Linked DNA regions of Homo sapiens. The protein of the gene in region 1 purifies or fractionates together with the protein of each later gene. This does not show direct contact. Each region holds a gene or a part of one and is shown in the gene's direction. Other genes may lie near its edges.

Region 1 (7,050 bases):
CACCGCCCCTGATGCCCAGACCTTCCCTCCATGAAAGTCTACTTCAACTCCAAATCACAAATGCGAAGTACTGGGTAGCAGTACATCTTTTCACTGGTTAATTGTCCACTGAGGCTATACTGCTTTTTATTTCTTGGTAGAGCTTGAATGTGACTAGGAATGTGATTTCTGATCTCTCAAAAACATAATATTAATAGGACTTTAAGGCCTGATGAAACTTCAAAAGGATTCTGTGCAGTAATTTGTCTGGAACCGTCTAGATAAAAAAATTCTTTTCTTACCTAAAATAAAGAAACTGCAGAACAGCATAGTCTGCAACCTTCTTTGTTGTTCCTGTTGTTGGATTTGGGGCTCAAATCCTCCTGAATAAAAAAAAAAAAGATAGTTGGATCATTCTTTGTGCTAAGGCATTTAACATATTTTTAACGATGTAACTAATATCATCATTTTCTATCGGTTGTTAGAGTTCCTGTATTCTTTCTGGACAGTTTTAGTTCCCTGTCTCCCCTCTCCAATGCTGTATCTCTGTTTGTTCAGTGTTAAGTATTACATGCCCTGCAGGGACATAATGCTCATTGCTTGTTATGGAACACAGGTTATTATTATAACCTTTACATTGATGATCATTTTGGCTACAGTGCTTTGTTGTTTAAAAAGTACACATGCACAATCTAGTTTGTTTCTCACAGCCAGGAGTAGGCTGGGTGAATATTTAAGAAGTGCAGACATGGAGCCAGGCTGCCAGGGCTTATGCACTATTCTTTTACCTTGAAGTGCTTCAGTTTCCTCTTCAGTGAATGGGAATCACTATGCCTACCTTGTATTTAGAGCATATATGCACATGTTAATACATGTAAAGCTCTTGGAACAGTGCCTGGCATATGGCAAACAGACACTCTGACATTATTTAGTGAAATTTAACTGTTATTATTGTTGCTCCCTTTTTTTATAATATATTTGAGAAAATACAGACTCTTAAATTCATGTCCTGACAAAAGTCTGTCAGGTAATAACAAGACAGATATTCATGCTTCCTGAGTCTATGTTCCCAAAGTGGACAGAATGATTGGCTGGCTGTCTAATCATACGATTAGTTTTTCTTTGCAACCTAGACATGTGAATTGAGCATGTCCCATAATTGCTGAGTGTCTCGCTTCTTTCTCTGCCTCTCTTGCAGAGCTACGTGGATCACATTAGCAATCCCTGGAACTTTAGTCTCCCCCGCCTTCAGTTTTGTGCCACAGGTCAGCTAGTGTTATTGCTTGGTCGGTTGTCTCAAAGACTCTCTCTGCTGCCACCAAACTTGCCCATTGGGACTAGTTCCTCGTCACTCTGAGAATTTTAAAGGAACATATTTATTAATAATAAAGAGTCCTGACTTCCTCTTTGTGCACTCACTAGGGCAAAACATAAATTAAATGACAAATCATTTGAATGTGAACACTAGGAAGGTGACTTGTGAGCTAAGGTGCTTTTTGCCTCTTGGACATGGAAGTTGTAGCTGGCTTTGTGCTGGACTATGCTAGGTTATAAGAGTATTTGGTTTTCTTGTGCAAAGTCCACAGAAAGGTGAGCTTTGCTTGAGACTATTGAGTGGAAAAATACACACGCACACATTCAGTTCTGGGCTAAGTTTTTCAGTACCTAATTTTTCCATTTCCATTGCTGCAGCTGTTTTATTTGGTTGCTGGGCCTTACATAAACCAGTTTATAATTCCTTAAACATATACTGCTTTGTCAAATACCACAACATTAAGCTCAAGAAATATAAGAAACTCCTGGTACATACAAAAAGTCTACATAACCAGTGGATTAATTATGAAATACCCTATTTAATGTGAAAATTATTCACTTTTTTTGTTTTGACTGTATACACAGTCCCTTTTACGCCACAGCATGTATTAGGTGAGGGGCTGCCTCCAGAATGATCCAGCCGAGATGGGCTTCCATCAGTGTAACATGACTACCCTCTAGTGGTTTTATAGAGAATGACATAGCTATTCATTTGTTTAAAAAAAAAACGTTTAGCAATAATTTTAAATATTTTATTTTATTTTAATTGACATATAATAGTTATACATATTTATGGGATATGTAGTAATGTTTCAATAGAAATATTACATAATGACCAGATTAGGGTAATTAGTATATCCATCATCTCAAACATTTATCATTTCTTTGTATTGGGAATATTCAACATATTTATAGGTCCTTGACATTTCAGAAAACCATGTAATCATTAGGCAGTTAGTGTAAGTAATACACACATGAGGCAGGCAGAGCAGAATAACACTTTAGATGCATGTTTTCTCTTTCTGAAGAGTTACAAAGCAGTTGATAGATATTCATGAATGTAGCTGCTGGGCTAACCATTTATGCCCATTTTGTGAACCGTTATTATGAGTCAGCTTCACTTTTTGAGTGATGTGGACTGTGGACATAGTGTCACCCAACTGAGGCTCCCACATAGTTTAGAACATACATGAGAGCAAAGGCCCTGGGTCAGGGCTTTCCAGAGCCTGACAATCTGCTATGTTAAGGCTGTTTTTTTTTCTCTGGTATTTCTACAGGGCAAAACCTCAGAGAAATATCTTAGTTTCTTATGATCATTAGAGCTCTGCAAAAGTCAATACTGTGCTTTGTTTTTGTACCTCTGTCTACTTCCTGGTCAACTCAGGCCCAAGGAATTAAAAAAAATGACCACACACACACACACACACACACACACACCCTGCCACACCCCTCCACACCCTTCCACAGAGTTAAAAAAATCAATAGGTAGGAAAATACAGTTAGTGCAGTGGTTAAGGGTCCTCATTTCTGGCTATATGACTATGGACAATTATTTGACCTTCCTAACTCTCAGTTTATGCATGAGAAAAATGGGCTCAATAATGAGCATAGTGTATGCCCATGGAAAAGAGAAAGCATTCTCATTAAGCATTTGTGGTGATGATGATGATGATGATGATGATGATGACATCATCAAAAGCTCCAAAGGGTAAATTGCTGCATTTGCCAAAGGCAGAACTGGATGAGATGCATGCTTCATAAAATAAATCAAGGGTAGACAGGATGGCTTCATCGACTCTTCCTTCAGAGGATAAGCAGCAATTTGGAATAAACTCAGCAAGGTAAAAAAGAAAAAGAAAAACTTCTCCTGAAGTGTGTTGATGGGGAACCAAATGTGAAAATCTAAAAAGCTATCCTTCTGCTTTTTAATATTGTTAGTGTATTAGAGAATAAATTACTTAAAACTTAAGGTTTTTGGCTGGCTCTACAAATGTTGAAAAAAATTTGAATTAGTTGCTAACATTTAAACATTGGGAGATATTTATTTAAAGACTCAGCTTCCTGGCCTCTCTTGAAAATTATCAGAAGTTCTGGCAACACTGGCCTGTATTCCCCGATGACAGCTGTTAGCTGGAGAAGAGCTGCTGCCCGCATCCACTTTCCAGCTCACCACAGGCCTCACTCCTCCCTTTGGTCTCCCCAACACTTACGTGGAATATTAGTGGCCAAATTTCATTGCATTTGTACTTTACGTTTTCATCTGGTAAAAACAGTGGGGGAATTTCTTAATCCAGGCTTGTTTCTTTATAACATCAGGGATCAGCAAACTTTATTTGTGAAGGATCAGATTATTTGGCTATGGGCACCATATTGCAGCTATTTAACTCTGCCCTGGTACGCCAAAGCAGCCACAGACAATATGTAAACAAATGACCATGGTCGTGTTCTAATAAAACTACAAAAACAAGATTTAGCTCATGAGCTGAAGTTTGCCCACCCCTGATCTCAATGACCATCCCAGCCCCTGTGCTCATTTGGTTTTCTACCTCTTCTTTGGGCATTTCCTTCTCCTAAACTTGATTTGATTTTAAGGCACACCTGGTATGTCTCAGTGGGAACATTCCTAGTGATAAGGTGCATGAAAATCGGATTTAGATCTGGCTCATCTTTTAAACCTTAAAAAAATCAACTTCACCTTTAACTGCATCTGGTGTTAAGGATCTTAACAGGTGCTGCTAAGGGCATAGTTCTGCTACAGCTTTATCTATAGATGCTGTGGATTAGGGAGAAGCTTTCTCAGGGACCTCATCATTAAAAGAAAACACATAATGATCTGCTTCATACTTACTAGGTATAGTTGAATGAAAGTATATGGGATAAATTAGGGAAAATTACTTATATCTCTGCTTATCTATAGCTTTGAGATGGATAAATTCAAAGATAATTATTCTCCCTTAAAACTTATTAATATATTGCCCTATGACATTGCTTTGTGTGGATCGAAGTGTATGCACCAGAGGAAGAATGAGATGTTATGTAAAGCAGGATCTCTAACCTACCTTCCTTCTAAAAATATGTGAGATATATATGAATAAGACCATATTACTACAGTAAGACCAACAAAAGACATATAAAAAGACAACTGAAATAGAAAAAGAAAAGTAAAAACCACAGAGAAAGAAGGAGAGTAACCAAATATAAGCAAATATGTAGTTGAACATGTAGATTTGGCTTCCGGCTTTTTGGCTGAAAGACCAGGTTAAGATGGCTGAGATGGAATGAGGATCCCTATATTATTTTGGCATACACAATTTGTTTTACACTGACTTCTCATCACCACTTTTGCAATAATTGTGTGAAAGTGCTGCTAGTGCACTGGGGTAAACATTCAGCAGAAATTCCTCTTTGTTATGGGGTGCTGTGCCTCAGAGAGTGTGCCCCATTGAGGGCAACATACAACCCTTAAACACGACAAAAGGAAGACAAGCAAGAAATGTCCCCCAGAGAACCTGCTATTGCAAAGTTCATGTTGGGGTCAGCCCTTCATGAGAAAAATATGAAAATTTGTAGGGCACATGGCACAGCCTTCTAAAAGACATTAATCAATAATATCTTAATAATTGTAATAATAGCCCCTATTTATCAGGTGCTTCCAATTGTAGAATTATTATTATTATTATTTTTAAGACGAAGTCTTGTTCTATCGCCCAGGCTGGAGTGCAGTGGCGCGATCTCGGCTCACTGCAACCTCTGCCTCCCGGGTGCAAGTAATTCTCCTGCCTCAGCCTCCTGAGTAGCTAGGACTACAGGCATACACCACCATACCTGGCTAATTTTTTTGTATTTTTAGTAGAAATGAGGTTTCACCATTTTGGCCAGGCTGATCTCAAACTCCTGACCTCAGGTGATCTGCCCACCTTGGCTTCCCAAAGTGCTGGGATTACAGGCATGAGCCACTGCACCTGGCCTGAATTTAATTATTAGGAAGACATTATCCCATCTTGTAGATGAAGAAACTGAGAGATTAGTGACTTGCTAATGTCACATTTTTCATAAATGATAGGGCTAGAATGTAAAGCTATTTGTCTCCAAAACCTGTGTTTTTAACCGCTAAACTATACTTCTCCCTGCCCGGATGTTGCTCAACTCTTAGAAGTAAGGAATACTGCTACTTGCATTCAAAAGAAATATAATGTGAGCCACAAATGTGAGTTGCATGTATGATTTTAAATCAAGTAGCCACATGAAAAAGGTAAAAATAATCAAGTGACATTAATTTTAATAATATAGTTTACTTAACCCACTGTGTGCAAAAGATCATTTCATCATGTAATAGACACAAAAATTATTAATGAACTATTTTACATTTTTTCATATCAAGTCTTTAAAATCCAGGTGTGTTTGATCCTTAGTTCATCTCCATTTGGCCTCATCACATTTCAGCTCTCAATAGGCACCTGTGGCTGGAGGCTACCATGGTGCACGGTGCAGCTCTACTGATGGAAATGGGGGTTAGAGACACTGAGGTCTCTTTCTGCTTTTAATTTCCATGAAAACCCAAGTCCAAGGAAGGGATCTTATTATCATCATCATCATCATCATCACCAATCATCACCAGTCATCATCCATCGCTTCCAAAAGCGTTTGTTAAACCCCTTATCTGAGCGCTGCTGAGCCATGCCCTCTGCCAGTTTGCATCAATGAGGATTCTCCTGTTCACATGTGCAATCTTCTGTGTGTTTCAGGTGACCCAGGCCCTGCCAGCTATGGCAGAAATGGCCGAGACGGTGAGCGAGGCCCCCCAGGGGTGGCAGGAATTCCTGGAGTGCCTGGACCCCCGGGACCTCCTGGGCTTCCCGGTTTCTGTGAGCCAGCCTCCTGCACCATGCAGGCTGGTCAGCGAGCATTTAACAAAGGGCCTGACCCTTGAAAGGCTTACTGCTGCATGGCTGTCTGCATGAACCACGCCTGGTGAAGGAGCCTGGGTGAGAAACACCATCCAAAGCTGGGGCAAAGATGATTACCTTCAGCATGATTACAATGTATTACCTTCAGTATGATTACAGAAGTCCTACTTGACAATCACATATAGAAGAACGGTGCTATTCAGTAAGTTCTCTTTCCTTTCCCTTGGAGGGAAGACAGCAGAGTCATCAGTTAAAAAAAAAAAAAGAAAACCAAACACCTCCCTTGAATAAATTTATACTCCTGTTCCCAGGATCTTGAGCTTTAGTGTGCTATACCTATGTGTCTTATCGTGGGCCACTGTGCCAATAAACAAAAACAACTGTTTGGTTTACCTCAGTTGCAGTAGTTATTTTCATTTAGAAGTTGTTCTCAGATTATTGTTTCAGTTATATAGAGGATTACTAGACTAGTTATGAAGAAACCCCACTACATTCAATGGAATTGGTGCTTAAAATCTCATCGATGTGCTGTCTCTGGAGTGATAAGAAAGGGCTACATCTCCCGAAATGATTTCTTTACGTCATGTATTGGTTTCCTTCTTCACCTTGAACTTTTGTTGAACTGTATGTACTTTACCCCAAACCTGTTAATATTTTGAGCGCTTCTATGTGAAAGCAAAGAAATAATTTTAATACTCTGGCATTCATAAATTTTATTGATGAGATTATTTATTTTAAAGGTTTGAGGTAACATCTCTGGTTGTACCAAAGAAGAAATAAATATGGTTTCTTAATCTCTTGCATGTTTTCTTATAAATAATCATGTTCAATGAAAAGAAGTTACTGAGCT
Region 2 (3,270 bases), on another chromosome or scaffold:
TGGGGCCTGGGCTCCTGGGTCTGAGGGAGGAGGGGCTGGGGTCTGGGCTCCTGGGTCTGAGGGAGGAGGGGCTGGAGGTCTGGACTCCTGGGTCTGAGGGAGGAGGGGCTGGGGCCTGGGCTCCTGGGTCTGAGGGAGGAGGGGCTGGAGGTCTGGACTCCTGGGTCTGAGGGAGGAGGGGCTGGGGCCTGGACTCCTGGGTCTGAGGGAGGAGGGGCTGGAGGTCTGGACTCCTGGGTCTGAGGGAGGAGGGGCTGGGGCCTGGACTCCTGGGTCTGAGGGAGGAGGGGCTGGAGGTCTGGACTCCTGGGTCTGAGGGAGGAGGGGCTGGGGTCTGGGCTCCTGGGTCTGAGGGAGGAGGGGCTGGGGCCTGGGCTCCTGGGTCTGAGGGAGGAGGGGCTGGGCCCTGACCCCAGCGTCCCCTGACTGTCCCCTTTCCCTGCCAGGGTGTGACTCTTACAGACCTGAAGGAGGCAGAGAAGGCTGCAGGGAAGGCCCCAGAGTCAGAGAAGCCGGCGCAGAGCCTGGTGAGAGGGGTCAGCGAGGGCGAGTGGGGTGGTGCGGGATGTCCTGCTTCCCTGACTCGCCTCCCCCTCCCGACAGGACCCTTCCCGAAGGCCCCGCGTCCCTGGAGTGGAGAACTCTGACAGCCCTGCCCAGAGAGGTGAGGTCTGCTCTCGGGGAGGTCATTCCCAGGGAATCATCCAGTTTCTCCCATAGTCTTCTTGCTTTCCTGGGGGCTTGACCCGGGGACCCAGGCACCGAGAGGGGGCTCTGGAGGTGCCTGGGCTGATTCCTGCCCCTCCCCCAGCAGAGGCGCCCGACGGGCAGGGTCCGGGACCGCAGGCGGCCAGGGAGCACCGCAAGGTCGGAAAGGAGTGGAGGGGGCCTGCGGAGGTGAGGGGCTCAGGTGGGGCCGAGCTGGTGCAGAGGGTGGGCCGGGGGGCGGGCAAAGCCCTTCCCATACCCGCTAAAGTCCCTCCCATACCCATTGAACCCCCGTCTACCTGCCCACAGGGGGAGGAGGCGGAGCCGGCTGACCGCAGCCAGGAGTCCAGGTAGGGGCGGGGTGGGAGAGGTGGGGTCTGCGTGCGGGCCGGGCCGGCCCCTGACGCGCGCTCCTCCCCTGCCCCAGCACCCTGGAGGGCGGCCCCTCGGCCCGCAGGCAGCGGTGGCAGCGGGACCTCAACCCAGAACCTGAGCCAGAATCGGAAGAGCCAGACGGAGGCTTTAGGACGGTGCGATCCCACCCCTCCGTCGGGGCTTTGCCTGCTGGGTGCCCAGCTTCCTGGCTTCCCCGCCCCCCCAGCATCGCCCCATCCTCCACCTGACCCTCCTCTACCTGACCCCCAGCTGTATGCAGAGCTGCGCAGGGAGAACGAGCGGCTTCGCGAGGCCCTGACCGAGACCACGCTGCGGCTGGCGCAGCTCAAGGTGGAGCTGGAGCGGGCCACGCAGGTAAGGGCGCCGAGGCCAGGGTCACGGGAACTGGCAGGGCCGCCTGGGTGGGGCTTAGACTGCTGGGAGGTAGAGCCTGGCCTGGGGGTGCCGGCGGGGCTGGGCTTCACTTGAGGGGCGGGGCCGAGATCTCGGAGGCGGAGTCTGAGCGAGGGGATGGGGCTGTGGGCCTGCCGGTGGCGGGGCCTGGCCCGTGGGGGAAGGGCTTGTGGGCTGCCTAGTGGGCGGGCGGGTGCCCAGCAGGAGCCTAGGACCCTTCAGAGCAGTGCTGGCTTCTTCTGCTGACCCCTGTGCTTTCTGTGTCCTCACCAGAGGCAAGAACGCTTCGCTGAGAGGCCAGCCCTCCTGGAACTGGAGAGATTCGTGAGTAGGGGCAGTGGGGATGGGGGCCAGAGGCGTCCCCAGCCTCACATCCCTAAGTTTGGACCAAGGGAGCCACATTGCCCTTCCCAGCTGGCCCCTGGCCTTCCCCTGCCCTCCTCAGCCTCACTCAGTTTCTGCACTTTCCCTGTTCATTCCAGGAGCGCAGGGCCCTGGAACGCAAGGCCGCAGAGCTGGAGGAGGAGCTGAAGGTGGGGGCTGTGGGGGCTGTGGGCAGAGGGCCGAGGGTGGGTGGGGGTGCAACCCGCCAGGGCTGCCCAGCTGACCCTTGCCGTCCCCCAGGCCCTGTCTGACCTCCGCGCTGACAACCAGCGCCTCAAGGATGAGAATGCAGCGTTGATCCGCGTCATCAGCAAACTCTCCAAGTGACCCGGAGGGACTTTCCCGCACCCGTATTTATACAGCTGCTTCTGCCACACGCACCCCTTCCCCCGTGTGAACACGAGTGACAGGGCTCCGGGGGAAGTCTCAGAGAAGCCATAGCCCCCCTGGGACCTCCGGACTGGGAGGGGAGCAGAGTCCCCAGGAGCCGAGGGGGCCACCCGAGGCCAGGATGGAGGTGGGAGGCCGAGCCAAGCAGGGGGACGTTGCCAGAGGGGACCAGGGCCAGAGACGGGACCAGGAAGGAACTGAGGACCAAGAAGTGCAAGGATCAGTAGCCAGGACCAGAGTGGCCGCCTGGAGGTCCCCATCTCACGTGTGATGCCACCCCGTCACCCCTCCCCTCCTGAGCAGGGATCCAAGAATGTGCCAAGAGTCCCGCCAGCCTCAGCCAGGTGGGCCTGTATATAGGGTCCATGTGCAATAGGGAGGGACGTCTTCTATTTTTTGCTGCCCCCTCCCCGCCCACTGTCTGGGGCAGGGGGAGAAGGTATTTTCGAGATAAAGCACAGGCACCACAAATAAAAGTCGTGAAGTTGCCACTCAAGCTCTGTGTTCCCAGCCAGAGGGAGGGCACTGTTTCCTGCTCCTGCTGGGGGGCCGTGCGTGTCCATGACCAAACCACTGGGCCACTTGGGTGGGTGCCGGGGGATGGGCTGGTGCTTACTCACCTGTGTGGTGAAGGAGCTTCAGGATGAGCCCCCAGCGGGAGCGAAGGCTCCAAGACGGAGCCCGCGTGATCGCAGGCGGGGGGCTGAGGGGAAGCTGATGGGGCAGGAGGGATCAGCGGGCAAGACCTCTGGGGCCAAGGATGTGGAGCTGGGGAGTTTGGGTTTTGCCATCAGTGTCTTTGAAACAAATTTAGTCAATTGCCAACATTTAACATTTGGAGAAATTTGTGTGTAAAAATCTGGAATTTTGGCCGGGTGTGGTGGCTCACGCCTGTAATCCCAGCACTTTGGGAGGCCGAGGCGGGCAGATCATTTGAGGTCAGGAGTTCGAGACCAGCCTGGCCAACATGGTGAAACCCCTTCTTTACTAAAAATGCAA

The links. The genes of interacting proteins can lie anywhere in the genome.
Region 2: the proteins of COL9A1 (region 1) and PPP1R12C purify together in Homo sapiens (affinity purification with mass spectrometry; 3 studies listed by BioGRID and IntAct, with this or other methods). This does not show direct contact.

Annotation. Positions count from the first base shown.
Region 1 is NC_000006.12:70,216,070-70,223,119, reverse strand, and holds the end of COL9A1 (collagen alpha-1(IX) chain isoform 1 precursor), read left to right. Parts: intron 1-6,038; coding exon 6,039-6,223; 3' UTR 6,224-6,994; downstream 6,995-7,050. UniProt on the Homo sapiens protein: Structural component of hyaline cartilage and vitreous of the eye.
Region 2 is NC_000019.10:55,090,410-55,093,679, reverse strand, and holds the end of PPP1R12C (protein phosphatase 1 regulatory subunit 12C), read left to right. Parts: intron 1-446; coding exon 447-527; intron 528-603; coding exon 604-664; intron 665-811; coding exon 812-897; intron 898-1,017; coding exon 1,018-1,058; intron 1,059-1,135; coding exon 1,136-1,238; intron 1,239-1,353; coding exon 1,354-1,458; intron 1,459-1,770; coding exon 1,771-1,821; intron 1,822-1,979; coding exon 1,980-2,030; intron 2,031-2,121; coding exon 2,122-2,208; 3' UTR 2,209-2,762; downstream 2,763-3,270. UniProt on the Homo sapiens protein: Regulates myosin phosphatase activity.